2 separate regions of the Homo sapiens genome follow, and region 2 is linked to region 1. Evidence: fine-mapped expression QTL. A gene starts in region 1. The other region holds a variant in brackets. All regions are shown on one strand. Distances are from middle to middle.

Region 1 (2,500 bases):
GGAGGATGAACCAGGGACTGAAGGCTGGGTGAGACTGTCAAAATAGTGCACAGATAATGACCTTTACTACTGTTTCCCATGAGAGTAAAATTTAAAAATTTCACAAGAGTTTGTCAATTAAAGAGGAAATCGAGTTGACTTTAAACACTATATTGACCCTCAGCATCACTTGCCACAGATATAGGTGGTAGGAAGTATGATGTTAGGAGAGCCAGAAGTAGACTGAGGATTTGGCTTCCAGTCTATTATTTCTACTGTGAATCTTTGCACCATCCCTGCTTCTGTCCCTGTACCAGATCCACAGTCCTCAAATGGATAGTGAAGCTGTTCAAAACCCACGACCTCACTTGCTGGTATATACGGTACTATACTATTCCCTACACCATAAAATACTTCTCAGAAAGAAAATATACATGGGGAGGGGAGGTTGATTAAATTAAATCAGGTTAAATTTGGGTGTGCATCAGACGTTCTTTTTTTTTTTTTTTTGAGACGGAGTTTTGCTCTTCTTGCCTAGGCTGGAGTGCAATGATGCGATCTCAGGTCACCGCAACCTCCGCCTCCCGGGTTCCAGTGATTCTCTTGCCTCAGCCTCCCGAAGAGCTGGGATTACAGGCATGAGCCACCACGCCTGGCTAATTTTGTATTTTTAATAGAGACGGGGGTTTCTCCAAGTTGGTCAGGCTGGTCTCGAACTCCCGACCTCAGGTGATCCACCCGCCTAGACCTCTCAAAGTGCTGGGATTACAGGCGTGAGCCACCGCTTCTGGCAAACGTCCTTCTTAATTGTTTGATTCCACTGTCCCAATAGCCGTCTGTCCTTTTCTGCCCCTATTTTTAGTGTCCAGCCACTAGTTGGTAACTTGGTGGCTCCTTCAGGCCTGCTAACTTTTTTTTTTCTTTCACCAAGACTGGTATGAGATACTTAAGAATAGTGGCTTTAACGACAGTTACCAACTTTTAATACAAATGCAGTCGAGAGGGCAAATACTCAAGTTTGGGGGCAGATAGCAGCCAGTCAAATAGGTCCGAGAGGCCCTGGCGAGCTACCGCAGGCCAGCAGGGAGGCCGTGGGCAGGTGGCGGTCGAGGCCGGAGGCAGGAAGCACGGCCGGGCGGGGCTGGGCGGAGCGGCCGCGGAGGAGCAGGGGCCGCAGGCGCCCCGCCCGGACTGGTATGCGGCCGAGAGTGACGCGGGAGGCGGGGTCACGTGACGCCCGTGGAATGCCAACAATGTAGCGAATGTCCCACTTGGGTCTGCGCTTTGGAACCGCGGCGTGAGCGCCCCGGGAAGATGGAGCAGTCGCCGTCCACGCCACCGCCGCCGCCCGGGGCTCCCCCGTCCCTGCGGGGCCAGCAGCAGCTCCAGCCACCAGTGCCCGGTCTCCCGGCGCGAGAGGCCCGGGAGCCGCCGGCCAGGACGCCCCCGAGGGTGTAGACCGCGCCCCTGGAGGTGAGGGGGCTGGGAGCTGGGGTCGGGGCGGCAGCTCGGAGGGTGGCGAGAGTTTCCGCGAAGCGGTCGAGCCCTGCGGCTCCGCGCACCTACTGTGGTGCCGAGGCTCCGGGAAGGGCGCCCGGCGGGGCGGCCGAGGAAGTTTGTCCGGACGGAGCCCTGCGCCCTGCCCCCACGGTCCGCGCCCGCCCGGAGCCGCCCCCGCCCGGCGGCTCGTAGTCCAGGCCGTACGGAGCCCGCGGAGCCGGTTCCAGAGGAGCCGGGGAAGTTGGAGGCCGGCGTCGGGCGGGGGCAGCGGGGCTGCGCCGCTTTGTTGTGCGGCGACCGGGGCGGCCGGGATCCCGGCGGGGCAGGGGCGGCGCGGGCCGGGGGCGGTGTCCTAGACCCGAAAGGCCGTAGCGCCGGGCGCGCCTCTGCTTCCGCTGTCTCCGGGGGATCGGCTTTTCACTAGACGCCCGGCCGGGCGCCCCTGACAGCCTCGGGACCCCCGGTCCGGCGGCGCAGCGGTCCCACGGATCCGGGGCCATCCTCCCGGCCGCGCCATCGTCCCACGGGCCAATCAGTCCTTCAGAGCCCGCCCTGTTGGCCCCCGCCGGCCGCCCCGTCGTCCCGCGAGCCGACGGACCCACGGCGGTGCCGCAGTCGAGGCCGCGCCGCCCCTCAGCCCCCGGTGGCTGCGCCGCCTCACCCACTGCCGCGCGGTTCCCACCCCGTTCCCCGCGGCCGCGCCGCCGGCTCACGGGCCAGTCAGCCCCTCAGAGGCCACCGGACCCTGGGGGCGCCGTTCCTCCCGGGCTGCGGGCGGCCAGGCCCTGCTCGGCGTCTCCCGGCCGGCTGCCGCGCCAACTCTGCGAGTTTGCTCACGGTCTTGGCGGGACGCGGCCCGAGGCGCAGGAGCGCTTTCGTGGCCACGCGAACGGCGGCCGTTGCATAACACGCCATTCCCGTGCCCTAGTTTAGCGACGTGTGGGGGGTTTGGCTTTCTCTTCTGATGTAAGCTCACCTGCGCTTAGCTCCCCAGCCGGACTCTGGAGATGGGGATTCTGAC
Region 2 (3,015 bases), 120 kb after region 1:
GGCAACAATTTCTACAGAAACAATTTAAAAATGGGACAAACAGTTATGCACAAAAGTATTTCCCTTAGCACATCTATACTATAGTATCTTTAAACGCAATTACACATTCAATACTATGATGACGGTTACAAATATTTTATGACTCTATGCCATACTGTCACATTTTATGTAATCAATAAAAATTCCATATTCAAAAAGTTTTTAATAAAAAGCAAAATTATCACTATATAATGTTAAGTAAAGGGTGAAGGATACAAACTGTACGATCTCAGTTTTTTGTAGCAAGAAAAAGAAAAAAATAAATATATCAAAAATTTTACATGTCTGAAAGGAAATACGGCAAAGTTTTAAAAAATGGTGACCTCTTGTAGGTGATACAATTGTGGGTGATTTTTTTCTTCCTGATTTTTTTTTTTTTTTGAGACTGAGTCTCAGTCTGTCGCTAGGTCAGATTGCAGTGGCGCGCGCCACCACGCCCAGCTAATTTTTTGTATTTTTAGTAGAGACTGGGTTTCACCATGTTGGCCAGGCTGGTCTCGATCTCTTGACCTTGTGATCTGCCCACCTCAGCCTCCGAAAGTGCGGGGATTACAGGCATGAGCCACGGTGCCCAGCCTTTTCTTCCTAATTTTAAACATCTTCTGTATATTTCCAAATTTTCTACAGTGTAAGTGTGATATTTTACAGCACGATTATTAGAAGGTAAAAATGGGTGAGGCTCTAGGATTTCGAAGGTCACTTTCAGCTCTAAAATTCCTTAATTCACACAGCTCTTATCACTATGGTTTGTTTGTTTTTTGACTTTCCACTGATAGTAACAGAAGAGTATATTACACATTTCCTAATAGCAATGTTATGCATGTCATTGCCTGAGATTCCTAAATCTTGTGCAAGATTTCAACATTATCTGTAGAACTTAAGTGCTAGATTGTGATCTTTTATGAAGTTTTTGAGTGTTGTCAACAGACTGAGTGTTCAGATGAAAATGCCGGGAGAGGACAATACTCGTAAATGTGCATTTCTACATTTAGATATAGCACATTAGTTAGTGCTTCATCATTCAAGAGACATTTAAATTTTACTACATTATAATAACATTCTTAAGAGTTTCCTTAAGACAAGGAGATAAACTCAGTTATTGCTAAGCAAGAATCTGCTGAAACAGTAAACAAACAGGTATAAACAAGTGCATTTGAGTGTGTGGCCACATGCCTGTCACTCCCAAATTCTTGTCCTTTGTTCCCAGCTGGGGAGAAGGTAAACAGAAATGGAGAATGAGGAGTCTCAGCTCCTGGCCTCCGGCCTGCTCAAGCGAAGGGGTAGGAGATCATCCCGCCACTTGCCAGGGATATTTTGGGGATATATCTGACACTGGGTCACATGCACTAGTTGGCCTGCAACAAATCTCAGTCTCCCAGCCAGTCGGCAGCAGATCAGGCACTCCTGTCTTTGAGCCACTGTGGAAGGAACTAGCCTGGGCAGCTCCTCAAAGGGGCTCTTGCTCACATCAAAGCTGGACAGTCAGCCCCTGGTGGGCTTCAGATTCAAAGACCCCTTCTGCCCCCCATCCTTGACTGTTGCCCCTCACAGTGGTCTCACTCTTTCCTTCTTAATCAAGTATGTGGGGCCCCTTTTGGGACAAGCATCCTGGATCAGGACCCAGGCTTTTGGTGACCCAATCCAACGATTCCTGACTCAT[C/T]GCCTTCTGTCCCATAGGCTTGCATTCCTCCATGAGAAATCCCCTTTGCGTCTTCTTTCAGAACTAAACTTTAGATAACTCCTTAAAACCAGAACCCAAATCTTAGCACTATCACCCACTCCCCGCAAAGGGTTACTCTCTACCCCTGAGCAAGGATGGCTTGGTCGGGGGGCATGCCCCTTGCTTTATGGTGGATTGTTACTTTTCATGCAGGGAAAAAAATAAAACGAAACATTAGTGTTTTCATTTAAAAACAAGTTGAACAGTCGTCTCCTGTAAGAGAATCCTGGAGCCCCAGACACACCTAGAAACACAAGTCTGTGCAAAAATACAATGTGTAGATTTATGGAAATGCACATGATGTGAAAAGTCCCTAACGGATGTGTATAAAAATTCGACTTTTTTTTCTTTGAGTCTCACTCTGTCACCCAGGGTGGAGTGAGTGCAGTGGGGCAATCTCGACTCACTGCAGCCTCCGCCTTGTGGGTTCACACGATTCTCTTGTCTCAGCCTCCTGAGTAGCTGGGACTACAGGCGCACGCCACCATGCTTGGCTAATTTTTATATTTTTAGTAGAGACGGGGTTTCACCATGTTGGCCAGGCTGGTCTCAAACCCCTGACCTCAGGTAATCCACCCACCTCGGCCTCCCAAAGTGTTGGGATTTACAGGCATGAGCCACCACGCCCGGCCCAAGTCTTTTTATTCAACACCTCATTTTATTCTTATGCACTGAATGCCACATTGGTTTCTTTTTTCTCTCTCTCTCTCACTCAAAGCACTATTATTAAATCCATGATGCAGCTTACTTTCAACATTATCTTCAAATTTAGGAAATACCATTGTATCATAAGCAGTGGTAATTCCCGTCTGCCAGGTGTCTACCGGGTGAAGGGGTCTTGCTCTGTGCTGGGTGCTCAGAGCCATCCCTGCCCATCTTCGTGCTAATGCCTGGAGGCAGCCACATTAGCTCCACCTCCTGGCTTGGGAGCTGAGGCTCAGAGAGGACAACTAATCAGCCCAAGGTCCCAAGCTAATATGTGGCACACGGAGATCTCAAACCCAGCATGAGGTAGGTACTGTGACCCCTATTGCACAGATGAAAAACAGACATACCGAGATGACGGGAACTCACTCAGGGCACACAAATGATAAGTGGCAGAGAAAAGATTGGAATCAAAATCCTACAAAAATCCTACAAAATTGAGGTGAGGCACAGTGGCTCACACCTGTAATCCCAGCACTTTGGGAGGCCGAGGTGTGTGGATGATCACTTGAGCCCAGAAGTTTGAGACCAGCCCGGGCAACAAAGTGAGA

Evidence for each region. PIP is the estimated chance that this variant, and not a neighbour inherited with it, causes the effect.
Region 2: its variant is the best candidate, but not a certain one, in a credible set for the expression of LATS2 in whole blood (TOPMed, PIP 0.56).

The regions. Positions count from the first base shown.
Region 1 is chr13:21,060,298-21,062,797 of GRCh38, reverse strand. It overlaps LATS2 (large tumor suppressor kinase 2), which reads left to right and starts at 1,212. Exons shown (of 8, transcript NM_014572.3): 1 at 1,212-1,452. RefSeq lists silencers at 998-1,797, 1,938-2,347 and an enhancer at 1,853-2,500.
Region 2 is chr13:20,938,167-20,941,181 of GRCh38, reverse strand. It overlaps LINC00367 (long intergenic non-protein coding RNA 367), which reads left to right. Exons shown (of 6, transcript NR_104058.1): 5 at 1,247-1,319; 6 at 2,532-2,618. Among named protein-coding and RNA genes, the nearest start is that of LINC00367, 9.8 kb to the left of the region's middle. RefSeq lists an enhancer at 1,083-1,582. The variant C/T (reference allele first, on the strand shown) is at 1,700.